Homo sapiens: one gene and its partners. The protein of the gene in region 1 interacts with the protein of each later gene in a pairwise test. Each region holds a gene or a part of one and is shown in the gene's direction. Other genes may lie near its edges. The genes, in order: BDKRB1, SLC44A2, SLC39A14 and HILPDA.

Evidence for each region.
Region 2: the proteins of BDKRB1 (region 1) and SLC44A2 interact in a two-hybrid assay, tested with the Homo sapiens proteins (one large-scale study listed by BioGRID and IntAct).
Region 3: the proteins of BDKRB1 (region 1) and SLC39A14 interact in a two-hybrid assay, tested with the Homo sapiens proteins (one large-scale study listed by BioGRID and IntAct).
Region 4: the proteins of BDKRB1 (region 1) and HILPDA interact in a two-hybrid assay, tested with the Homo sapiens proteins (one large-scale study listed by BioGRID and IntAct).

The regions. Positions count from the first base shown.
Region 1 is NC_000014.9:96,259,210-96,262,236, forward strand, and holds part of BDKRB1 (B1 bradykinin receptor), read left to right. Parts: intron 1-21; exon of another isoform or gene 22-683; intron 684-2,879; exon of another isoform or gene 2,880-3,027. UniProt on the Homo sapiens protein: This is a receptor for bradykinin. Could be a factor in chronic pain and inflammation.
Region 2 is NC_000019.10:10,640,096-10,647,652, forward strand, and holds the end of SLC44A2 (choline transporter-like protein 2), read left to right. Parts: intron 1-2,271; coding exon 2,272-2,356; intron 2,357-2,801; coding exon of another isoform or gene 2,802-2,923; exon of another isoform or gene 2,924-3,183; coding exon 3,184-3,290; 3' UTR 3,291-4,462; downstream 4,463-7,557.
Region 3 is NC_000008.11:22,409,259-22,415,777, forward strand, and holds part of SLC39A14 (metal cation symporter ZIP14 isoform a precursor), read left to right. Parts: intron 1-687; coding exon of another isoform or gene 688-857; intron 858-2,778; coding exon 2,779-2,948; intron 2,949-5,521; coding exon 5,522-5,644; intron 5,645-6,510; coding exon 6,511-6,519. UniProt on the Homo sapiens protein: Electroneutral transporter of the plasma membrane mediating the cellular uptake of the divalent metal cations zinc, manganese and iron that are important for tissue homeostasis, metabolism, development and immunity.
Region 4 is NC_000007.14:128,449,438-128,458,677, forward strand, and holds HILPDA (hypoxia-inducible lipid droplet-associated protein), read left to right. Parts: upstream 1-6,440; 5' UTR 6,441-6,586; intron 6,587-7,763; 5' UTR 7,764-7,831; coding exon 7,832-8,023; 3' UTR 8,024-8,981; downstream 8,982-9,240. UniProt on the Homo sapiens protein: Increases intracellular lipid accumulation. Stimulates expression of cytokines including IL6, MIF and VEGFA. Enhances cell growth and proliferation.

The DNA.
Region 1 (3,027 bases):
AATTCAACGAAAATTTATAGATCTGTTTTAATACACTGTTTAATAACATTTTAGGATGCTGAGACTCAATGTCCACTAAAATTGATTGATAATGGGAAAATAAAAGAGAAAACACATGTGAAAGTCCAGTTTTTTAAAAAAATTCATGAACAACTTTATCACAAGTTTGTAGTTCAGTAAATCTGTGCATATGTTTTAACATTTTGTAAATTTTGTCACGTACGTCTATAAATGTCAATTTATAGAATATTGACATTTATTTATATGCAATAACAAATTGTGTGTGCACCATGACCTGTTCCAATCACATTTCTGTTTCATTAGTGTCTTAATTTAGTAGGAATATTATTGTTACCATGACGCTGGACTCCACCACAATTTGTGTTTTATCCTCACAAAAATGCAATGACTTTATTTCCAATGTGGAAAATTTAAACAACTTAAATAGCATTCACAAAAAGTCAGTTGTTTCACTTTGCCAGAATGAATGTCCCAAAGCCCTGCTTGGCTTCCATGAGCTGAATGAAAGAATGAATTGTGATTGGAATTAACAGGTTTTTCTGTCTGAAGAGTCCGAGGATACTGGTGTTGAGCTGGCACCATTTTGCTTTCTGTGATGTTCTTCTTATGGAGCCAACACACAGTCAGCCATCACTTCCACTGTTGCACGTGCACAAGAAAAGCTGGAATTAAATGTGAGCTGAGTTAACTTAAAGAACAGTCATTTGATCTAAGGGAAAAGTCATGCCTCTCAGAATGATCTTATATCAGCATCTTTTGCAGCTACATGGATGAGAACCGTGTCTTAGGGTGCAATTTTTTTTTTTTTTTTTGAGACAGAGTCTCACTCTGTCACCCAGGCTGGAGTGTACTGGTGCGATCTCAGCTCACTGCAACCTCTGCCTCCTAGGTTCAAGCAATTCTCTGCCTCAGCCTCCCAAGTAGCTGGAATTACAGGCACCTGCCATCACACCCAGCTAGTTTTTGTATTTTTAGTACATACAGGGTTTCACCATCTTGGCCAGGCTGGTCTTGAACTCCTGACCTCATGATCCACCTGCCTCGGCCTCCCAAAGTGCTGGGATTACAGGCTTGAGCCACCACGCCCAGCCTGGTGCAATGTTCTTAAAATTACTAATTTCTAAAGTAGCAGCTCTGTGTCTTAGGTTTTCTTGCAATCAGTGAAATTGCTACAGACCCCATAGTGATGCAAATGTCAACAAACGTTCTATGCAAGCTATCTGCTCATCAACAACTTCCTTGAGCAACAGAAGTGCAGTACTTAAATTTCCATTAAATATTTGTTTTTTAGCTCATTACTCCAAAAGGGTTTATTTCAAATTCTTTAAGTATTGCCAAATGATAAAATACACATAGTTTTGGATTTATGCCCTGCAAAAAATGACCAAACTATTGTAACAAGAGCCTCCAGCCTCCTCCATATTATGCTCTGGGTGGGGACTGCTCAGCTTCCATGTGCCATGGACATTTCACAACCACCAAATCATAATTTCCCATGTCTCCTGTTGATCTGTCAACCGGCAGCTGTGCAACTTCTGCTCTTTTATCTACTCTCTCCCTTGGTGATTTCATCCAGCCTTGTGGCTTTAAATGCCATTCCTATAGTTACAACTCCCAGTTAGGTCTCATCATCCCAGATCTTGTCCCTGAATACCACACTTGTCTACCTAATTGCCTGCTGGATGTCCCCATGTGATGTCCAATTTATATCTCAACCTTAACAATTCCAAAGTTGAACTCCTGTTCTTCCCCACCCCCCACAAAAAAAACTGCTTCATCTTCATTCTGTCACCTTCATTTCAGCTGATGACAACTTCATACTTCCCAGTGTTCAGTCCAAAAACCTTGGCATTGTCCGATTTCTCCTTTCTCCCACCCAGATCCAACTGAAAATCACGGTGTTACTACCTCCAAAACACCTCTAGAGTTTGATCACTTGATCACTTCTCACCACCTGCCCTGCTACTCTCCCCAGCTGTCACCCGCCAGCATGTTTATTTAGTGTGTGTATTGTTTATCAACTTCTTCCTCCTGCTAGGCTTATACGCACACTGAGAGCAGGGATTTTTGCCTGCTGTATTCACTGCTTTGTCCTAAATACCTAGAACAGTGCCTGGCACATAGTACATTCTCAGTAAATACTTGTTCAGCAAATAAATAACTGGAGGAACCAGTGAATTATACCCCGGTGTGAATAACTCCATGTGAGTGACATGACAGAATGTCAGAGCTAGAAGGGCCTCTTGAGGACATCATGTCTTCCTTAGATGAGGAAAGTCAGGCTCAGAGACATGAACTGACTCTCCTGAGGTTACACAGCCAAATATGCTCTTCCAAGGTTAATTCTCTGCTACACAATAGCTTTTGTTGGTATCTGTGAGGCTTTGCGGGGTTGAAGGAATCTCAGGTGTCACCCATTAATAACAATCATGACAGTGACAACTAATGTTTGCCACGTGCTTACAATAAGTCAGGAACCCTGCCAAGCACCGGGCGTATATTAACCTATCCAAGCTGGGGAAGAATGTTTAGGCTCTGAAGATTGTCTGGAGCCGCATAAATCCCGCAGTGTAGGCAGCTGCTCATTCTGCAGATAGTATTCTGTGGATCCCTGAGTTGGCTGTGGCCGGTTTTGCCAGCAGGAGGCCACGAAGCCATGAGCACAGGATGGGATCTACCCCTTGTGGGATCGCAGAGGGCTGGGAGATGCAGTCCTCCCTATGGAAAGAGACAGAGCTTTCTATCCCTCTCCCGGTGAAACTCAGCATGGGAGCATGGGAGGCAGGTCAGCTGCGTGGCTATGAACATGAGCTATGGGGTGCATGCAGACCAAGGTTCATAGTGTACACTGTACCCACCAGCTGTAGCTCCTCCAGCAAGCGTGGGAGGCCAGTCAGCTGCATGGCTGTGAGCACGGCCTCTGGGGTCCATGCAGACCAAGGTTCCTGGCGTAGCACTGTAACCACCACCTAGGTCTTCTCCGACAAGCTGGTTAACTTCTCTGAG
Region 2 (7,557 bases), on another chromosome or scaffold:
TTTTTTTTTTTCTGCGATAGAGCCTTGCTCTGTCACCCACGCTGGAGTGCGATGGAGTGATCTCTGCTCACCACAACCTCCACCTCCCGGGTTCAAGCGATTCTCCTGTCTCAGCTCCCTGACTAGCTGGGATTACAGGCATATGCCACTGTGCCCGGCTAATTTTTGTATTTTTAGTAGAGACGGGGTTTCACCCTGTTGGTCAGGCTGGTCTCGAACTCCTGACCTCAGGTGATCCACCCACCTCGGCCTTCCAAAGTGCTGCCAATAAAGGCATGAGCCCCTGTGCCTGGCCATTTCATTGTTTTGAATTTTTAATTTAATATAATAGAGATAGGCCAGGTGTTGTGGCTCAGGCTCTACTATAATAACAATAATAATAGAGGCAGTGTCTCCCTATATTGCCAGGCTGGTCTTGAACTCTGGACTCAAGGGATCCTCCTGCCTCAGCCTGCCAAAGTGCAAGGACTACAGGCATGAGCCACCACGCCCAGCCAGGTCCACTGACTTCAGTCAACAAATGTTTATCTAGCAGCTACCAAGGCCGTGTGAGTCTCCAGATTGCTAGGGATGCAGCAGTAAATGGGACTGGGTCTAGTGAGGATGTGAGCATTAAACCTGAAAGCCCTAAACATGCATAAAATTGCAGCTGCACCAAGAGCTCAGGAGGGGTGCCCAGTGCTAGGAGGACATAAAATAGGCTCTAGAGGCCGGGCATGGTGGCCCACACCTGTAATCCCAGCACTTTGGGAAGCCAAGGCAGGCGGATCATGAACGTCAGGAGATTGAGACCATCCTGGCTAACATGGTGAAACCCCATCTCTACTAAAAATACAAAAAAATTAGTCAGGTGTGCTGGTACGCACCTGTAGTCCCAGCTACTCAGGAGGCTGAGGTAAGAGAATCGCTTGAACCCGGGAGGTGGAGGTTGCACTGAGCCAAGGTCCCACCACTGCACTCCAGCCTGGGTGACAGAGCAAGATTCCGTCTCAGGAGGGAAAAAAAAAAGGCTCTCAGCCAGACGCAGGGGCCCACATGTATAATCCCAGCACTTTGGGAGGCCGAGGCAGGCAGATCGCTTGAGCTCAGGAGTTTGAAAACAGCCTGGGCAACATGGCAAAACCCCATCTCCACAAAAAAATACAAAAATTAGCTGGGTATGCTGGAACATGCCTGTAGTCCCAGCTCCTTGTAAGCCTGAGGTGGAAGGATCACTTGAGCCTGGGAGGTCAAGGCTGCAGTGAGCTGAGATGGGGCCACTGCACTCTAGCCTGAGCAACACAGTGAGACCCTGTCTCAAAAAAAAAACAAAAAAAAAACGCCCACTCTAGGTGTCGTAGGTGGTTTCCTGGAGGAGGTGGGACTTGAGGACTTGCTCTTTGAGCTGAAAGCAGAAGGTCGATGGGGCATAAATTAGATTTAAGTCAGGACAATAGCACATGCAGAGGCCCAGGGGTTAAAGAAAGCAAGGGTGAGGCTGAGTGCAGTGGCTCATACCTGTAGTCCCAGCACTTGGGGAGGCCAAGGTGGGCGAATCTCTTAAGCCCAGGATGGGTAATGGGTAACGTGGCAAAAACCCATCTCTACAAAAAATACAAAGGTTAGCCGGGCACAGTGGTGCACATCTGTAATCCCAACTACTCCGGAGGCTGAGGCGGGAGGATCACTTGAGCCCAGGAGGCAGAGGTTGCAGTGAGCTGAGATTGCACCACTACAATCCAGCCTGGGCTACAGAGTGAGACCGTGAGACCCTGTCTCAAAAAAAGAAAAAAAAAAAAGGCCGGGTGTGCGGTGGCTCACGCCTGTAATCCCAGCACTTTGGGAGGCTGCGAGGCAGGTGGATCACCTGAAGTCAGGCGTTTGAGACCAGCCTGGCCAACATGGTGAAACCCCGTCTCTACTAAAAATACAAAAATGAGCCAGGCGTGGTGGCACGTGCCTGTAGTCCCAGCTCCTCCGGAGGCTGAGGCAGAATTGCTTGAACCTGGAAGGCAGAGGTTGTAGTGAGCCAAGATCGTACCATGGCACTCCAGTCTGGGCAACAGAGTGAGATTCCGTCTCAAAAAAAAAAAAAAAAGACGGAGAGAGAGAAAGAGGATTTTGTGTGGATGGTGGGGCCCTGCCAGCGGGGGTGAGGGGTTGGGATGTCACTAATCCAAAGAGGGTTTCTCAGCAGGGGAAGGATGTGGTCCCAGCATAGGATGGACTCAGGGGGTGGGGGCTGCTCTGGGAAGGACACGGAGCAGGGACAGCTCGTTTCTCCTTGCCCAGACGGTGATCGTTGGCTCCTACTTGATTGCACACGGTTTCTTCAGCGTCTATGGCATGTGTGTGGACACGCTGTTCCTCTGCTTCTGTGAGTGACCCCTCACCCCAAACCTTGCTGGGCCCCGAATCCCTTCTTTCCACTGGGCATCACATCACCCTCCAACGGGGCAACACGCTTGCCTGCCCCCAGCTTCCCCAGGGCTTGGCTGTCCCTCGTCCTGGGTCCCCAGCCTGTCTTCCTGGTTTCCTTTTGCGCTTAGAAGCAGCTCCGACCTCCTGTCCACTGGCCCAGGCTGCAGCCTGGACGCTGCCCTGGAGCCCGCCCGCGCTTCGCAGTTTCTGGCTTTGACTGGGGGGAGGGGATCTGTGGCTGCCACTAACTCTGGTCTCTCCATCTGTTTTTTTTGTTTGTTTTTTTCTTCTCTCTTCCTCTCCTCCATGCCTGCTGGCTTCCCTGTTCTTCCCTGCCTCCCTCTTTCCCTCCCTTCCCGACCACCCCATTTTCCCCCTGCCGGTTCCCGGGGGGAGCCCAGGTGAGGACCTGGAAAGGAATGACGGCTCTCAGGAGCGACCCTACTTCATGTCGCCCGAGCTGAGAGACATCCTGTTGAAGGGGAGTGCGGAGGAGGGGAAGCGGGCAGAAGCCGAGGAGTAGAGAGTGAGGGAGACTGGCGTGGGGGCCAGGTTTCCTCCATGTAGACTGGGGGTGCATGAAGCGGGGGGGTTCCTGGCCTGCGAGTGTGGGGATCCTGTGTGTCCCTCGGAGCCCACTACAGTCTGCCCCTCTCTGGTCCCAGTGTGTCTGCTTTCTAACCCTCTGAGGCTTCTCTGTGACCCTCATCCACCTACCCTGTCCTTGAGGCCCCTGCCCGTGGGCTCCCCTCATGCCTCCTGCTCTGGGACCTCTCTCCACAGTGGAGGACCTGGAGAGGAATGACGGCTCGGCCGAGAGGCCTTACTTCATGTCTTCCACCCTCAAGAAACTCTTGAACAAGACCAACAAGAAGGCAGCGGAGTCCTGAAGGCCCCGTGCTCCCCACCTCTCAAGGAGTCTCATGCCGCAGGGTGCTCAGTAGCTGGGTCTGTTCCCCCAGCCCCTTGGGCTCACCTGAAGTCCTATCACTGCCGCTCTGCCCCTCCCCATGAGCCAGATCCCACCAGTTTCTGGACGTGGAGAGTCTGGGGCATCTCCTTCTTATGCCAAGGGGCGCTTGGAGTTTTCATGGCTGCCCCTCCAGACTGCGAGAAACAAGTAAAAACCCATTGGGGCCTCTTGATGTCTGGGATGGCACGTGGCCCGACCTCCACAAGCTCCCTCATGCTTCCTGTCCCCCGCTTACACGACAACGGGCCAGACCACAGGAAGGACGGTGTTTGTGTCTGAGGGAGCTGCTGGCCACAGTGAACACCCACGTTTATTCCTGCCTGCTCCGGCCAGGACTGAACCCCTTCTCCACACCTGAACAGTTGGCTCAAGGGCCACCAGAAGCATTTCTTTATTATTATTATTTTTTAACCTGGACATGCATTAAAGGGTCTATTAGCTTTCTTTCCGTCTGTCTCAACAGCTGAGATGGGGCCGCCAAGGAGTGCCTTCCTTTTGCTCCCTCCTAGCTGGGAGTGACGGGTGGGAGTGTGTGTGCCCAGGTGGGGGTGTCTCCTGGCTGGGAAGGAGGGAAAGGGAGGGAGAGTTTTGCGGGGGTTGGCAGTGGAGAGCAGGCTGGAGAGGAGATGGCTAATAGCTGTTTAATGGAAACCTGCTGGGCTGGAGGGAGTTAGGCTGAATTTCCCGACTTCCTCTGCCAGTTATTGACACAGCTCTCTTTGTAAGAGAGGAAAGAAACTAAACCCACCCAAGGGATGATGTCAGGGGGAGAGGTGGAGGGCAGATGTCCTGGGCAAACCGGGCCCCTCTGCCCACACACCTCACTTGATCCTTTTGCCAAACTTGTCAAACTCAGGGGAACTGGCTTCCCAGTTGCCCCTTTGCCATATTCCAAGTCCCCCTCAGACTTCATGTCTCTGCTCATCAGCACTGTCCCAGGATCCTGGAGAGGGAGAACTCCTGGCCCCAGGGGAAAGAGGGGGGGGTCTCCCGTTTCCTGTGCCTGCACCAGCCCTGCCCCCATTGCGTCTGCACACCCCTGCGTGTAACTGCATTCCAACCACTAATAAAGTGCCTATTGTACAGGTCCAGGCCTGGTGTGTTTGTTGGGGGCAGTGAGCCAGTGGCGGCTGGTAGGGGGAACCCCAGCTTCCAAGGCCCTAGGAGTCTCTGAACTAGGGCGATTCTCTCAAAGGGAACGAGGAGGGGGCAGGAAACCCACTGGCTGCTGGCTCTGCCTGAATTCCAACCTTCAGGCAGCTCAGATTTCCCGATTAGGCTCTAATCCCTGGACTCCAGAAGGCAGAGGCAGCCTGTCCACCTCCGCCATCACCCATCCTGGACACACGCCCCCAGGCCTCCCCTCTCTCAGGGCCCAGGCACCTGAGGTCCTGCAGTCACTATGCTCCCCAGCTACTTTGGATCTGCGAAGGGACTGACTGCCCTTGGGGTGGGCCCCACTGCCTGGAAGCTCGCTGCTGCCCCCTCGTGCCAGCTGCCAGTGTCAGTCACCTCCAGGCAATCCGCCCCAACATTTCAATTCTTTCCACCTCCTCTCAGGGAATTTTTCTTCAATATCCACTTTTTTTTTTTTTTTTTTTTTTCAGACAGTCTTGCCCTGTCACCCAGGGTGGAGGGCAGTGGTGCGATCTCGGCTCACTGCAACCTCCACCTCCCGGGTTCCAGCGATTCTTCTGCCTCAGCCTCCCGAGTAGTTGGGATTACAGGTGCCTGCCACCACGCCTGGCTAATTTTTTGTGTTTTTAGTAGAGACCAGGTTTCGCCATGTTGGGCAGGCTGGTCTCAAATTCCTCACTTCAGGTGATCCGCTGGCCTCGGCCTCCCAAAGTGCTGGGATTACAGGCGTGAGCCACCTGGCCCAGCCTTTTTTTTTTTTTTTTTTTTTTGAGACAGGATCTCACTCTGGCTGAAGCTAAAGTGCAGTGGTGCAATCATGGCTCACCACAGCCTCAGGTGATCCTCCCATCTTAGCCTCCCGAGTAGCTGGGACTACAGGTACACACCACCACACCTGACTAATTTTTGTATTTTTTGTAGAGATTGATTTTTACCATATTGCCCATGCTGGTTTTTTTTGTTTGTTTGTTTGTTTTTTGAGACAGAGTCTCCCTTTGTGGCCCAGGCCACAGTGCATAGTGCCACAGTGCAGTGGCACAGTCTCAGCTCACTAAACCTCCTGGATTCAAGTGATTCTCGTGCCTCAGCCTCCTGAGTAGCTGGGATTACAGGCGCGTACCACCACATCCAGCTAATTTTTGTAGTTTTAGTAGAGACGGGGTTTCACCATGTTGGCTAGCCTGGTCTCAAACTCCTGACCTCATGTGATCCACCTGCCTCGGCCTCCCAAAGTGCTGGGATTACAGGCATGAGCCACCAAGCCTGGCCAGCATTTTTGTTTGTTTGTTTCCAAGAAGGCATTTGAACCCAGGTCTTGGCTCCAGAGTCCTCAAGTTCTACCCTATGCTGGCACTGACCCCTTCCTCGATGCCTTTGTTTCCCTGGATCCTTTGAATCTGGCATTTTATTCAGCCCCAGCTCCTGTTACCATGCCCACCTAAAAAATAGCTCCTGGCGGCCGGGTGCGGTGGCTCATGCCTGTAATCCCAGCACTTTGGGAGGCTGAGGCGGGTGAATCATGAGGTCAGGAGTTTGAGACCAGCCTGGCCAACATGGTGAAAACCTGCTGCTACTAAAAATACAAAAATTAGCCAGGCATGGTGGCACATGCCTGTAATCCCAGCTACTCGGGAGGCTGAGGCAGGAGAATCGCTTGAACCCAGGAGGCAGAGGTTGTGGTGAACCAAGATGACACCATTGCACTCCAGCCTGGGCAACAGAGCAAAACTCTGTCTCAGAAAAAAAAAGAAAGAAAGAAAAAGATTTGTGGTACGATACATATAGCATAAAATTTGCCATCTCCATCTCTTTCTTATTTATTAAGCCACTGGGTCTCACTATGTTACCTGGGCTGGCCTTGAGCTCCCGGACTGAAGGGATCATCCCGCCTCAGCCTCCCAAGTAGCTGGGATGACAGGCACTCGCCACTGTGCCTGGTTTATGTTTAATTTTTTGAGGAACCACCATAGTGTTTTCTGGCTTCATGCTTTGGCTCCACTTCTGGGTTGGCTTCACTCTCTGCCAAGTTCCTTTATCTGGGTATATTCCCTGCCTCCAACCACACTGTGCTGTGATAGTTAATTTTAGGTGTGAACTTGGCTGGATTAGAAAATACTCAGATTTGAGCTGTGATGTGGTAAAAATAAGACAAAGAAAAAAAAAAAAACAGTGGCTGGGCTCCGTGGCTCACGCCTGCAATCAGCACTTTGGGAGGCCGAGGTGGGCAGATCGCTTGAGCTTGAATTCGAGACCAGCCTGGGCAACATGTGGAAAGCTTGTCTCAACAAAAACTATGAAAATTAGCAGGGTGTGGTGGTCATGCACATGTTGTCCCAGCTACTCAGTAGGATGAAGTGAGAAGGTCACTTTAGCTCAGGGGGTGGAGGGTGCAGTGAGCTGAGATCACACTACTGTGCTCCAGCCTGAGCGACAGAGCAACACGTCTGATAAAGCATTATTTCTGGGTGAGCGCCATCCAACTTGCTGGGGCTCCGACAGAACAGAAAAAGGAGAGAAAGCATTTTCCTCCTCAGAACTGGGACACTCTTCTCCTCCTGTCTTGACACTCCAAGACTTATACCAGTGATCCCTGGTTCTCAGGCCTTCGGCCTTGGACTGGGAATTACACCATTGGTGTCCCTGGCTCTGAAGCTTTAGGATTCAGACTGAGCCTCGCTACTGGCTTTGCAGGGTCTTCAGCTACTGGAGCTGCTGGCTTTTCAGGGTCTGCAGTCAATGCATGTGGTAGGACATCTCAGCCTCCATGATCACATGAGCCAATTATTCTGCTAAATCCCCTCTCATCTACCTACCTCCTATTAGCTTTCTCGGAGAAACCTAGTAATACACACATCATACATTTTCCTGGCCTTTTTTTTTTTTTTTTTTTTTTTTTGAGATGGAGTCTTGCTCTGTCACTCAGGCTGGAGTGCAGTGGCACGATCTAGGCTCACTGCAAGCTCCGCCTCCCGGGTTCACGCCATTCTCCTGCCTCAGCTCCTGAGTAGCTGGGACTACAGCTGCCCGCCACCACCCCCGGCTAATTT
Region 3 (6,519 bases), on another chromosome or scaffold:
AGCCCTAAGCCCCATAGGGCCGGCGTGTGCTGCCTGAGTGTCGGCACCCGGAATATACTGTCTGTGTTACTGCAAGTCCCTGTTTTCTGCTGTCGTTATTTACTTGTATGGCTTTTTTTGTTTTTTTTGTTTGTTTGTTTTGAGACAGACTTTCGCTCTTGTTGCCCAGGCTGAAGTGCGGTGGTGCAATCTCGGCTCACTGCAACCTCCGCCTCCTGGGTTCAAGCGATTCTCCTGCCTCAGCCTCCTGAGTAGCTGGGATTTCAGGCACGCGCCACCACGCCCAGCTAATTTTTTGTATTTAGTAGAGATGGGGTTTCACCATGTTAGTCAGGCCGGTCTCGAACTCCTGACCTCAGGTGATCCACCTTCCTCAGCCTCCCAAAGTGCTGGGATTATAGGCTTGCGCCACCGCACCTGGCCTACTTGTATGGTTTTTAGGCTTCCATTGCTGTTTGCATCCGTCTCTCCATGGAAAAGGTGTTTCTCTTGGATAGCAATTTTGATAGTTTCCCTAGGCTTCTCCGCAGCATCTGGTGAGAGATGGACTCAGCAAATGTTTACTGATGGGTTGGTGGATCTCAGTCTGCCCCATCACACCTGAATTCAGAACAGGGCCGCCCCAGGCAGCAGGAGTGTCCCCACCCTCAGTAATAGAGGCCCTCGTCTGTTCTTGTTCCTCCACAGTGTGGGGCTTTGGTTTTCTCAGTGTCTCACTGATTAACCTGGCCTCTCTCCTGGGAGTCCTCGTCCTGCCCTGCACAGAGAAAGCGTTTTTCAGCCGTGTGCTCACTTACTTCATCGCCCTGTCCATTGGAACGCTGCTGTCTAACGCGCTATTCCAGCTCATCCCAGAGGTGCAGTAGAACAGAAACTTGCGCGTCCTCTTTCCCTGGGGCGGCACAGCTGAGCCAATCCCCTCCTCCCCTACCCTGGGCTCCAAGGCACCCAATGACTGCCACCTGAGAAATGAACCTGTCCCTCGTATCAAAGCCACAAACGACTTCTAACTCTGGATCTCAGGGCCCACCTCTCACTCCTCTGGCCTCTGCAGGTGCTGTCAGATGCAAGGTTCTTCCAATTTCCCTCCTCCTGGGGACTTGACAGTCTCCCCTCCCTTGTTAAGCCCCATACATAAGGCATCAAGGGAAAGCAGCAGCTATCGACTGCCGTCCATGCCTTTGGTGCTAAGTACTTGCTCTATTCTAAGGAGAAATCCTGGCAGTACTCAGGTCTGGGCACCAAGAGCTTATCCATCTGGAATGAGATGGAAGGAAAAGAGGTTACCAAGTGATATGTAGAATTGGCCTAAAAAGCGAGTGTTCTTTAATTTTGAGCAGGCCATCGTTTCTAGCATAGAGAGCCAAACACAGAACAAAGACTAAGACCAAACAAAATTAAAATGACAAGATAAATGGAAGGGGCACTCAGCCCTTTGTACCTTGCATCTTGACTTTTTTCTGATAGGACTGACTTCCTGGTACCTTGACTTGACTGTTTTGAAATGTTAATTTTGTTGTTTAATTGTTATCATAGAGGAGCTATAAAAATAAGGCCCAAGTTGACAGTCTGCCCACTTTTTTAGCTCAAGCAGGGATGCTGCTGTGGAGGGTGAGGATACGCAGACGTGTGGTTGACCCCATTAGGGAGTCATGGATGCTGCCCTTCACAAAGATCCCATGTCAGCTGCTTCTCAGGCTTTCCCAGTCAAAAGACTCACCCAGAAAAGACAGCAGATGGGATGCCATGCCTTGCCTGTTCTTCCTGGTTGAATGTGAACCATCTTGGTGCCATCTCAAAATTCTGCATGGCTCTGACAAACACTTTGCAGGGGAGGCCTCAACTTGGGCTATTTTTTCAGCTCCAGCAATGGAATATATTAATTTTTTAAAGATTTGAAATGAAAGGCCTTGTGACCTCCTGGAATGGAAATACTGTAATTGTGTGTGCTCCACCCCTGTGGCCTGCCAGGGAGTGTCTCATCCTGGTCTGGTTCTGTCTTGCCCTCTTTTGGGCCTGGACAGAGTGTCACAACTGGGAAATGTTCAAGGAAATATTTTTGTGACAGGGTGTTCCTGGAACTCTGTTCTTTGTGCTTGAGCCCCTCTCAGAGCACATGGAAATGAGCAAAGAAGTTGAGAGGTTAAGACACTGAATTTTATGGGCATTGGGCATGAATTAATCGTTCTCCATCCCTTCTGCCCTGCACATCTGGCTTGGTTGTGTCTTGCACAAAGCAAACCAAGTGGTCGTGGTGTCACCCGAGCCTGCGCCGTGTGAATTGGACATGCAAAAGCAAACGCAGCAGCAGAGTGATCAGCCTCTTTCCACCTGCTTGCATGTCCTATAAAGAGAGCCCTCGAGTCCAAAGTCTGTCCTGGACAGCCTCTGTGATAGGTCTGGGCAGACCTTGGGTGTGTGACGAGGCAGCACCCTGCCCTGCCAGTCACACCACTGGCAGGAACGATTTGGGGCCACCAGTGGCCACAGGGGCAGAAGTCACAGGGTTCCAAGGCCACCTTGAATTCCTCTTTCTTCTGAACTGATTGAAGGAAATTTCATCAGATGTGAATCACTAACAAATTTTCTATTTCTCTCTCCCTCCCTACTTGTCTCTCTCTGATTTTTCTTTTTTGTTCCGTTAATATCCACCAAACTTTTCCTTGCGACCTCCCTATCTGCTCCACCTTCCTCCCGCTAAATGGTGGTTGCTGTGCAATGGGGCATGTGCCTTCTCTCCCTGCCCTGGGTGGGGCTGGCCCTCCCTCCGCACGGCAGTGTGGGGATACGGTCTCCTCTGTGTGACCGTCATCTCCCTCTGCTCCCTCCTGGGGGCCAGCGTGGTGCCCTTCATGAAGAAGACCTTTTACAAGAGGCTGCTGCTCTACTTCATAGCTCTGGCGATTGGAACCCTCTACTCCAACGCCCTCTTCCAGCTCATCCCGGAGGTATGGCAAGCCAGGGCCTTCACCCCGGAGCATGCCGGCGGGCACAGTGGGAGGACCTCCGTTTGGATAGAAGGCATAGAGAGGGCACCTGGAGGCCCTTTCCTTTTGGAAAGCGAAGCTAGAACTTAGGCGTGAACTAGGAGAGGCAGCCCAGCATAGGCTGAAGAGCTGGGTTCAAATCTCAGCTCTGCTATCAGTAGGTTCCGTAACCCCAGGCACACCACTGACCTCACACTGCCTCTGTTTCTTCAGATGTGAAATGGGGAGAGCAATAGACCGGCCTCAGGATGATGTTGTGAGGGTGGAACGAGCGAGTCTGCTGCAGCACTGAGTGCCTGGTGCGGAAAGTGCTGTCTGATGTGGGGTGAAAAGATGCAGTGTAGCGAGCTCACTCTGGCTTAGTTGTGGTGCTCAGATTAAGGCTTTGGGTGCAGAGAAGTTTAAAAAACATCATCAGCCGGGTGCAGTGGCTCACACCTATATTCCCAGCACTTTGGGAGGCTGAGGCAGGTGGATCGTTTGAAGTCAGGAGTTCAAGACCAGCCTGGCCAACATGGTGAAACCCCGTCTATACTAAAAACACAAAAATTAGCCAGACGTGGTAGCGCACGCCTGTAATCCCAGCTATTCGGGAGGCACAAGAATCACTTGAACCCAGGAGATGGAGGCTGCAGTGAGCCGAGATTGCACCACTGCACTCCAGCCTGGGTGACGGGAGTGAGACTCCGTCTCAAAACAAACAAACAAACTCCCACATCATCAGAACCCACAGTTCTCAGTAAAAAGATTGTCCATAGGGAGTTTTGGGGCAAAGGCAATGCAAGTCAAACAATGTCTGGTTTTATATACCTTGATGGTACCTTTGCCTAATAAGTTCATGAGAAAACTTGCCACAAAAGAAGGAGCTGATGGTTCATCTAATTTGGTGTAATCCCCTCAGCAGACCCATTAATTACAATAAGCACAGGACGTCTCCCTGTGGGTGGTCTCGCAGGCCTGGACAGAGCCGCAGTTGAAGCAGAGATGACTGCATGCGCCTCTTACAACACTTGGTGTTTTCTGAAATGTCAGTTGGCTCCCTCCTAGTGGATCCTTAGGTTAACTCCATGGCATCGATAGAACAAGTAACGTTTTACCACGTTGGAATCTGACCTGCACAAGAGCGCATATCCCTGAGTCGAGAACCCAGCTTTTGGGATTTCTGAAGCTCAACCCCATGATTCTGTATTCACCATCCTTTGTGGCTTTTTGCAGAGAAGTGTTCGTTGCCTATTTTCACTTCACTTTTCCCCCAAGATGATTCGACTCCCCTGGAAAGTCAACATGAAAGTGTTGTTTCCCTGGAGGGTGGTGATTCAATTTGGCCTGTTTAAAACATAAAGGCAACAAACAGCCCAGAGTTCCTTGAAGTTGGGATCAACTTTTATTTTGGACCAATTCATGAGAGGGCTGAAGTTTATTCAAGGCCCGTTTCCCATCAGAAAATGGAGGAACAACCCGGTAAATATATATACTTCCTATGTACCCACAAAAAAATTTAAGAATAAAATAGGAGCAAGTCGTTAGATACTTTTTTTTGTTTGTTTTTGAGACAGTCTCACTCTGTCACCCAGACTGGAGTGCAGTGGTGCCATCTCGGCTCACTGCAATCTCTGCCTCCTGGGTTCAAGCCATTCTCCTGCCTCACACTCCCGAGTAGCTGGGATTACAGGTGTGCCACCAGGCCCAGCTAATTTTTGTATTTTTTTTTTTAGTAGAGTTGGGGTTTCGCCATGTTGGCCAGGCTGGTCTCAAAACTCCTGGCCTCAAGTGATCCACCCACCTCGGTCCTTTAAAGTGCATGAGCCACCGTGCCCGGCCAGGTCATTAGACACATTCACAAGAACCCACCATAAATCAGGAGCTTACCCTAGGACAGAATTCTCTTGATTTCTACTCCTGTCCTCTTCCCAGTGGATTCTCCCCTCCCTCTTTGATAAGTGACAGTTTCAGAAAGGACTCAAAACAAAACCCAAAAATTGACGCTCGCAATAACACAGTCCACTTTCTTGGTTCTGTGGTCACTGGGAGGTCTGCGGTTAGGAAAACGCTGCAGTTCTTATTACTTAACTGGGAAATGGGTTTCCCGTTTTAGAAAGTATAATTACACCATCTCCCTTTGTGTTTACAGGCAGGTCAGCCAGGAACACTAGATAAGATGAAAATAAATACAAGTGTCTGCTCCTTCAATATGAAATCTATTGGCAGAGAATGCCTTCATAGCAAAGCACCAAGATAAATCAAAAGTGGAAAACCATATCGGAGGTTTTTCTTTCTGGGATTAAAATTCTACAGATGATCAGTCTTTTGCATCAGCAAATAAGCTTGAGAAGAACCTGGCAGGTTTAGTGATGTCACATCAGGGAAACACCAAGGACTAGATTTTTGCTGGAAAGAGGATGGGTAGACGGCAGAGTTACTCCATTATGCCTCTCTCCTTTCCTAGAGTCAAGGAAGTAGTTAAGAGATAAGAGGGGGATCAGTAAAGATGCTTTATTTTCTTTAAAACTCATTTTCTTTTCCTGGGTCCACAGGCATTTGGTTTCAACCCTCTGGAAGATTATTATGTCTCCAAGTCTGCAGTGGTGTTTGGGGGCTTTTATCTTTTCTTTTTCACAGAGAAGATCTTGAAGATTCTTCTTAAGCAGAAAAATGAGGTGAGGCCCAATTGTTGCTGAAGAAAGCTCTTCTAGGGAAAACACCCATCTCAAACAATGTTGATGTATTGTGGTGGTGGTGGTGATGGTCTTAGCCCAATATCACAATTTCCGTGAAACTCTAATTTCTTGAGGAGACAATCCCATTTCACCTCCTGAGGATATTTGGCCAGAAGTGAGGCCAGACCAGAAACTAGATCTGGCCAGGGTGCCTTCTACTAAGCAGTAGTTTATCCCCTTTGTTTTGTTCTAAGATTATTTCCTTAATATATTTGTATCTTTACAGGATGGGGAGAAGAGCTTGATACCATGCATTCATTCTGTATGAAGTATGAGGCTGCAGAGAAACAGGACTATTATAGTACAGTTTCAAAAAGATATCTTTAGTGGCTGGCATGCAGTTATTCCCTAAATAGCTGCTGAATTGAGTGAGATTAGCCATTGCAAAAGAGGAGCTCTAAATATTTGAGCAGTGGCTGCCTTGGTGGAATAAGCATGTACCCCGAGGAGACAGCTTTGATATCTGTCTGACACCAGGTCCTTCGCACTTGGTGCAGATTTATATATATAGATATTAGAAACGGGGTCTCGCTTCGTTGCCCAGGCTGCTCTCAAACTTCTCAGCTCAAGCAGTCCTCCCACCTCGGCCTCCCACAGTGCTGGGATTACAGGTGTGAGCCACCGTGCCCGACCATGGCTTTATATAATAGCTTTTGCTATGTTTCTGGGCACGTGACCTGCTTGTGTCATCTTCGATGGTAAGGCTGAGGTCTTCCAGTGTGTGAAGCACTTCCTTGGAGCAGGTGCTCAATCAGGTTTGTGGTTTTGGTGAATGTCATGCTGATCCCTCCCTGTCACCCTTCCAGCATCATCAT
Region 4 (9,240 bases), on another chromosome or scaffold:
AACCCCATCTCTACTAAAAAAAAGTACAAAAATTAGCTAGGTGTGGTGGCTGGCACCTGTAGTTCAGCTACTCGGGAGGCTGAGGCAGGAGAATCGCTTGAACCCGGGAGGTGGAGGTTGCAATGAGCTGAGATCGCACCACTGCACTCCAGCCTGGGTGACAGAGTGAGACTGTCTCAAAAAGATAAAAATAAATAATAAATATAAATATATTTATTTATTTAATAAGGTTGGTCTTGAATTCCTGACCTCAACTGATCCACCTGCCTTGGCCTACCAAAGTTCCAGGATTATAGGCATGAGCCACCGCGCCCAACCAACTCTTAACATTTTAATATACAGACTTAAAAAGTCTAAAATTGGCTGGGTGTGGTGGCTTACACCTGTAATCCCAGCACTTTGTGAGGCTGAGGCAGGTGGATCACTTGAGGTCAGGAGTTTGAGACCAGCCTGGCCAACATAGTGAAATGTCTCTACTAAGAATACAAAAATTAGCTGGGCATGGTGGTGGGTGCCTGTAATCCCAGCTACTCGGGAGGCTGAGGCAGGAGAATCACTTGAACCTGGGAGGCGAAGGTTGCAGTGAACCGAGATTGCACCATTGCACTCCAGCCTGGGTGACAAGACCAAGACTCTGTCTCAAAAAAAAAAAAAAAGTCTAACATTAATCAATATTTACTTTCCTCCCAAATAAAAACATATTAAACTTCATCTTTGCTCACTGTTCCCATCTGAAATGTTTACCAATTTTTCAGTTTATCTTGTTATTTTTACTTTTCTAAATCAACCATTATTACTAAAAATAGTTTTGAGTAGTCATAATTTGTTTAGATACATCCATATGTTTTGTAAATATTTCCTTACCATTTTTTCTTGCATTTCCCTATTTCCTTTTGGGTTCAGTTTTCTTGTGTCTTAGGTTCATTCTTCAGTAGTTTCCACGGTAAGGGCCTACGGCAGCTAACTCTGTTTTTGTTTGTCATCTGACGATGTCTTCAACTTGCCCTCCTTTAAAGAAAATAATGACTTTATTCAGATATAGTTCACATATCAAAATCCACCGTTTTAAAGGATACAATTCAATGGTTAAGTACATTCATAGACTTGTATAACTGTCAGCACTAATTTTAGAACATTTCATCACCAGCCCACACACCAAAAAAAAAACCACCCTGTACCCACTAGCAGTCATTCCCCAGTCCCCTCTCCTCCAGCCCTTGGCAACCACTTACCTACTTTCTGTCTCTGTGGATTTGCCTTTTTTTTTTTTTTGAGACAGTCTTGCTCTGTTGCCCAGGCTGGAGTGCAGTGGTGTGATCTCGGCTCACTGCAACCTCTGCCTCCTGGGTTCAAGCGATTTTCCTGTCTCAGCCTCCCAGGTAGGTGGGACTACAGGTCAGCACCACCATGCCTGGCTAATTTTGTCTTTTTGGTAGAGACAGGGTTTCACCATGTTGGCCAGGCTGGTCTCAAACTCCTGACCTCCAGTGATCTGCCCACCTTGGTCTCTGTGCTGGGATCCTCAAAGTGCTGGGCTTACAGGTGGGAGCCACTACGCCCAGCCCTGGATTTGCCTATTCTGACATTTCATATAAATGGAATCATACGATATGTACCCTTTTGTTTCTGGTTTCTTTCACTTAGCATAATGTGTTCAAGGTGCATCCATATTGTAGCATGTATCAATACTTCATTTTTTATGGCTGAATAATATTCCATTGTATCACATTTTGTTTATCCTTTAGCCAGTTGACGGACATTTGGGTTGTTTCTACTTTTTTGGCTATTATGAATAATGCTGCTATGAACATTTGTGTATAAGCGTTTGTGTGTGAACATACATCTTCGGTTCACTTGGGTATATATTTAGGAGCTAAACTGCTGGATCATACAGTAACTCTATGTTTAACTTTTTGAGGAACTATTCTAAAGCAGCTGCACTATTTTACATTCTAACAGCAATGTATGAGGGTTCTGTTTTTTCTACATTTTCATCAACATTTGTTCTTTTCTGGGTTTTTTTGCTTGTTTGTGTTATAGCCATCCTAGTGAGTGTGAGGTGGTGTCTCATTGTATTCTATTTTTTATGTTCATTTTAACATAAATGTAGCATACTGCTCACATACTATAAACCCTTTTCATTTAACAATATATTGTGGAGATCTTGTCGATATATACAGAACTTACTCTCTTTTTTCTGGCTTTATGGTAATTCACTGTCTGAATGCACCATCTTTTATTTAACCAGTTCTCTACTGATGGGCTGTTTTTTCCAGTCTTTCATTATCACAAACAGTGCTGCAACAGTGCTACCTTTAAACACTCCATTCTCTACATGTGGAAGGATAAATCCTAAAAGTGGAATTCTGGGCTAAAGGGCATGTGTATGCTTTTATTTTTATAGACATTGCCAAATGGTAGTCAGTGGTCTTTTTTAACACCTCAATGGTCTTGAGGTGTTTAAAAAACAAGTGGGGGTCAGGGTAACAATTACTGACAAATTGATTTCCATACTGAATGTACCAGTTTATACTTACCAGAAATGTAAGTACATGTTATTTAAATGAACACTTGATGATAAGATCAAATTTGTGAAAATACTTGTGTTCTTAGTATGGTACTCTTGTGTGGGTTGACTTCAGAATCACTTCTTTTTAGGGGCTTTGGGGGAAGGGCAGCTTATAAAAAGCTTTCCTTGGTTGCAGCTCCAAGGAGGAGGTAGCACCTGAAAACGGCTTCTCTTGGCGCCCTTATCTACATTTCCTTGATGAAACAATGGGTACTCACTGAAGATGCTGGGTAAAATATTCATTCATTTATTCCTTCAGTCAACAAATATTTATCAAAAGCCTACTATTTGGTGCTAGCTGCTGGAGATGGAATGGAAACAAAATCAGACCAAACACTCCTTTCACTGACATTTTCAGGCTTTTGAAAGGACACAGACATTAATACAACTAAGGGTAAAGTAACACACTGGGAAAGAAATGCCTATCATGCCACTGGAGCCCGGAACAGGGTCCGAGGGTCAGCAAGGGTGACCAGAGGAAATATGTTTGAATTGAGATATGAAAGATGAGTAAAAGACTAGGTGAAGAAAGTCTCTTCTTCCTCTGGAAGAAAAAGCATAGTTAACAAATAAAGAAGGCTGGGTATGGTGGCTCACACCTGTAATCCCAGCACTTTGTGAGGCTGAGGCACGTGGATCACTTGAGGTCAGGAGTTTGAGACCAGTCAGGGCAGCATAGAGAGACCCCATCTCTACAAAAAAAAAAGAAAGAAAAGCAAGAAAAGAAAGGAAAGAAAGGGAAGAAAGGGAGAAAGAAAGAAAAAGAAAGAAAGAAAGAAAGAGAAAGAAAGAAAGAAAAAGAAAGAAAGAAAGAAAGGAAAGAAAAGGAAAAGAAAAGAAAAGAATTAGCTGGTGTGGTGGTGGCAAAGAAAGAAAAAAGAAAGAATTAGCTGGGTGTGGTGGTGTGTAACTGTAGTCCCAGCTACTTAGGAGGCTGAGGTGGTAGGATAGCTTGAGCCCAGAAAGTCAAGGCTGCAGTGAGCAGTGATCGTGCCACTGTACTCCAGCCTGGAAAACAAAGTGAGACCCTTTCTCAACAACAACAACAAATAAAGAAGAGAGGCAATAATACCTACCTCATAGCATCGTTAGAAAAATTAAATAATACATGTAATGCATTTAGCAAAATGTTCAGCACGTATCAGTTACTTGAAGAATGCTTATTTTGTTTCCACTCTTTCTTTCTTCTTTTTTTTTTTTTTGAGATGGAGTTTCCCTCTTGTTGCCCAGGCTGGAGTGCAATGGTCTGATCGCAGCTCAGTGCAACCTCTGCCTGCCAGGTTCAGGTGATTCTCCTGCCTCGGCCTCCCAAGTAGTTGGGATTAAAGGCATGCGCCACCATGCCTGGCTAATTTTGTATTTTTAGTAGAGAATGTTGGTCCATGTTGGTCAGGCTGGTCTCGAACTCCTGACCTCAGGTGATCTGCCCGCCTCAGCCTCTCAAAGTGCTGGGATTACAGGTGTGAGCCACCATGCCCAGCTCTTTTTTTTTTTTTTTTTTAAATAACCATAGTGAATGTTAAAATCCCAGTTCCCCAAGCAAAACATTACCACCCTACTTATGTACTTACTTCTAAACTCTACCCCACACTGCCTTGGGTTGTTAGTTATCTTATCTTATTCAGGTCTTGTTTACTCAACCAGGTGACAAGCTTATTTAGAACAAGAATCTGGCTTTATACTTTTTAGCAAAATAATAGCTACTATTTGTTGAGCATATATGACATACTCTTTATGGGCATTATTTCCAACCCTCACAACAACCCTGTTTTACAGATTATTTTCCTCATTTTACAGATAAGGAAACTAAAGTTCAAAGGGGTCAGTTAGCCTGGCCAAGGTGTTGAAGGCAGGACTAAATCCTGATGCAGGTAGCTACATTTGTAGCTGACAGAATGGTAAAGCATAGAGCTGCCCTCACCCAAACCCTTCTTATTTCCAACTGGCATGACCTTTAGACAATGGCAGGGAATATGGGGAGAAAGAATTGTTGGAGAGGTGCCCATCCCTTCTTCCAGCTGTGTGAAGTATAAATTTAGAACTCAAACTAAGTAGAACTCAAATGGTCATTGTAGAATTCCTGCATTCATTCAGCAAGCCTAGGCTGCTAATGAGCAAAACCCCTCACTGGGAGTTTTGTAGTTGATGATACAGATAATGTTAAGATTCATAGAATGTTTTTTATGTGCCAGGCATTGTTCTAAGCGCTTTATATGGATTAATTCATTTAATATCAGGTTAAGACTGTTATGATCTCACAGAACAGCTGAGGAAACAGAACTACAAGAAGGTTAAAGGGTTCGCCCAAGGCCTTCACCTGGCAAAGTAGTGGCGTTTGGATCTGGCAGTGATTTCGCAGCTTGAGACCTATTTAATAACAGTGTGAGAGAAGGGTCACACAGTCAAGCAAAAAAACAGACGAAACTCTGGTATAGCGAAGGACCAAAAGTTCTGCGGGCTGAGCAGGAAAGTTGGCTCCAAATGTCTGCCTGCCTGCCAGCAGACCTCCAGCCCCAACCTTCTGCTTTCCCGGCTTCCCCACCCCCTCATTCCCGACAGACCACAGCCAGCCAGCCAGGAAAGGAGGGGAAAGGTCGCAGTGGGGATGGCTCCTCCCTTCCCGTCTTAGAGCCCTTCTTAAGCAGAGCCCGCCGAGCTCGCTGAGATGTGGAAAGTCACAGGGTTCTTTCCCATCCGGCACGGGCACTTGACCCGGGTACACGGAACCGCCAGTTCTAAAGCCACCAGCGGCCTTCCCTTCCACGGCGTGTACACCCCTTCCCGGGGGTCCTCCCCATTCCCAGTGTCTCTCCGGGACTCTACTTTCTGAGATCCCCCGTTGCGTGCTCTCAAGACAGACCGCACAGTCTTGGCTGGGTGGGTTCGGGGGTGATTAGTAAGGCAGCCTAGCCCCCCAAATCTGGACATAAGGCTGGTCTGTGACCTCCTGGCTCTTTAGTTCAAGCCGAAAGCACCCTTAAAAATCATCTAGCGGCCGGGCGCGGTGGCTCACGCCTGTAGCCCCAGCACTTTGGGAGGCAGAGGTGGGAGGATGGCTTGAGATCAGGAGTTCGAGACCAGCCTGGGCAACATAGCGAGACTGTCTCTATTTAAAAAAAAAAAAGAAGAAGAAGAAGAAAAATCATCTAGTGGCCAATGTCTTCATTACAGATGAGAAAACCGAGGCCCATTTAAATACCAAGTGACTTGCCCATATGCAGTTAGGATCCCACACCAGGGCCAGGAGTATTTCACGTTTTCTGAAGCGACACGACAAACTCTCATAGAAAGCAGAGCTTGCAGAGCTTAATATGTTGCACAAGGGCCTCACCATTCCAGAGATACCGATGGCAACTGAAACTCGGGATTTGGAATCTTGGTACAGCTATGAAGTGAAACAAAACCAGCTCTTCAGTCCTTGAAATGAAGAAAATAACGAGTGGGGTAGGGGTCTGGTGCCCTCTGACAATTTAGTGCACCCGAAATCTCTGGGGAAGAACCCACCCTTCACGGCGGGGCTTCACGGACACGAAGGCCATCGGTGTTTTTCACCTACTGGGGAGAAGGGATATGTGCTCTCTGACTCCTTCAAATGTTTTCTACAGCAGAGATGGCAGTCGAGATTAATACACACGCCTCGTCTCACTCCAGAACACAATGACTCAAAACCGCACGACGTGTACTTTTGGAAACAGCTCCGCGGGAGAGCACCCGGGACAATCCCCAAACCCCGTTGCCCGCGGGGTGGGGCCGCGGACGTGCGCCACGTCGTGTGCGTCCCGGGCGTGCGTGCGGCCTCCAGTGCGCGTGCGCGTACCCTCCTGGGGCGTGCTCGCGGCTATAAGGGGCGGAGGCTGGGCGGCGTTGCTCTGCGCTCTGCGGCTGACGGCGCTTTTGTCTCCGGTGAGTTTTGTGGCGGGAAGCTTCTGCGCTGGTGCTTAGTAACCGACTTTCCTCCGGACTCCTGCACGACCTGCTCCTACAGCCGGCGATCCACTCCCGGCTGTTCCCCCGGAGGTGAGCGGCCCTGTGGGCTTCCCCGGCTCCCCACCCCCATCGCTAGAGTGCTCGCCGCGCTAGCAGCCTCGCGTTCCAGGGCTGGGGGTGCGCCGCCGGGATCCTCTCTGATCGCCCACGCCCCATCTGGGGTCCCCATTCAGCCGTCAGCCCTGTTTTGTCCTAAGGTGGTCCTAACTAGGATCCACGTGGCCCATCCCACGCCCACAGGTGCTGAGTTAGGCATCCCTGCCATGCCCTCCCAGAGCACCTTCACGATCTCCTTGCTGTCCCAACACTTAGCGTGTTGCGTGTTAACTACCCTTTGTCTATAAGGTTTGCAATGTGGCCCTAGTATCTTCCAGGGTACCTAACACATTGCAGATATTCATGGTATGTTTGTTAAATAAATGAACTTGATAGATTTGACCCTCATAGAGTTATTTGGACTTGCAAAAAGTTTGTAGTTAACTCCAATCTGTGATGTGGGAGAGACTTCTAGGCAGGTTCCTTTCTCCAGGGCATGTTCTTATATTTCCCATTACCCACCACCCCCCTGCAAAAGGACTGGGCCTATTTCAGGAAGGTGACTGATGCCTGCACTGTAGCACAGGGGTTGTGTATTGTGCCTTGCAGGAACAAAATTTTCAATAAAGTAAATGTTTGTTTGTTTGTTTTTGAGACGGAGTTTTGCTTTTGTTGCCGAGGCTGGAGTGCAATGGCGCGATCTTGGCTCACTGCAACCTCTGCCTCCCGGGTTCAAGCAATTCTGCCTCAGCCTCCCGAGTAGCTGGGATTACAGGCATGTGCCACTATGCCCGGCTAATTTTTGTATTTGTAGTAGAGACAGGGTTTCACCATGTTGGTCAGGCTGGTCTCGAATTCCTGACCTCAGGTGATCCACCCGCCTCGGCCTCCCAGAGCGCTGGGATTACAGGTATGAGCCACCGCGCCTGGCCTAAGAAAGTAAAAGTTTTAAGAAGTGTTCTTGAATTAGTCCAAGAAGCAACACTGGCTCCGCAGCCATGAAGTTTGCAATGTAAAATATTCTTGGAGAGTTGCTGTGCAACTCCCTGGTCCCTGTGTCCCTCACTGGCTAAGCCTCTCCTTCAGCCCTGTGAGAGGACAGAAGAGTCAGGGCTGGATGCATGCATATCCCCAAAAGGCTATAGATTCATCCTTTCCTCTTTTTTCTCAGGGTCCAGAGGCCTTTCAGAAGGAGAAGGCAGCTCTGTTTCTCTGCAGAGGAGTAGGGTCCTTTCAGCCATGAAGCATGTGTTGAACCTCTACCTGTTAGGTGTGGTACTGACCCTACTCTCCATCTTCGTTAGAGTGATGGAGTCCCTAGAGGGCTTACTAGAGAGCCCATCGCCTGGGACCTCCTGGACCACCAGAAGCCAACTAGCCAACACAGAGCCCACCAAGGGCCTTCCAGACCATCCATCCAGAAGCATGTGATAAGACCTCCTTCCATACTGGCCATATTTTGGAACACTGACCTAGACATGTCCAGATGGGAGTCCCATTCCTAGCAGACAAGCTGAGCACCGTTGTAACCAGAGAACTATTACTAGGCCTTGAAGAACCTGTCTAACTGGATGCTCATTGCCTGGGCAAGGCCTGTTTAGGCCGGTTGCGGTGGCTCATGCCTGTAATCCTAGCACTTTGGGAGGCTGAGGTGGGTGGATCACCTGAGGTCAGGAGTTCGAGACCAGCCTCGCCAACATGGCGAAACCCCATCTCTACTAAAAATACAAAAGTTAGCTGGGTGTGGTGGCAGAGGCCTGTAATCCCAGCTCCTTGGGAGGCTGAGGCGGGAGAATTGCTTGAACCCGGGGACGGAGGTTGCAGTGAGCCGAGATCGCACTGCTGTACCCAGCCTGGGCCACAGTGCAAGACTCCATCTCAAAAAAAAAAGAAAAGAAAAAGCCTGTTTAATGCACAGGTGTGAGTGGATTGCTTATGGCTATGAGATAGGTTGATCTCGCCCTTACCCCGGGGTCTGGTGTATGCTGTGCTTTCCTCAGCAGTATGGCTCTGACATCTCTTAGATGTCCCAACTTCAGCTGTTGGGAGATGGTGATATTTTCAACCCTACTTCCTAAACATCTGTCTGGGGTTCCTTTAGTCTTGAATGTCTTATGCTCAATTATTTGGTGTTGAGCCTCTCTTCCACAAGAGCTCCTCCATGTTTGGATAGCAGTTGAAGAGGTTGTGTGGGTGGGCTGTTGGGAGTGAGGATGGAGTGTTCAGTGCCCATTTCTCATTTTACATTTTAAAGTCGTTCCTCCAACATAGTGTGTATTGGTCTGAAGGGGGTGGTGGGATGCCAAAGCCTGCTCAAGTTATGGACATTGTGGCCACCATGTGGCTTAAATGATTTTTTCTAACTAATAAAGTGGAATATATATTTCTACTGTGTGTCATGTTGACTTCTGCTCTTGAAATTCGTGGTAGGGAGGGTCTTAATTTCTAGACCTGAGGTTTAATTTTAACATCTCAATACTTTGGAGCAGGAAAGTGCTTAAATCACTTTGTTTAAAACATAGTATCAGTAGACTTCTGAATTTGGGGGCAGAGGCAGTTGGGTCTGCCATGTATCAACCAGTTATGTGAGCCTAGGCCACGATTATTGCAGGCCTGTCATGACTAGATCTGTAAAGAAGAAGAAAAAT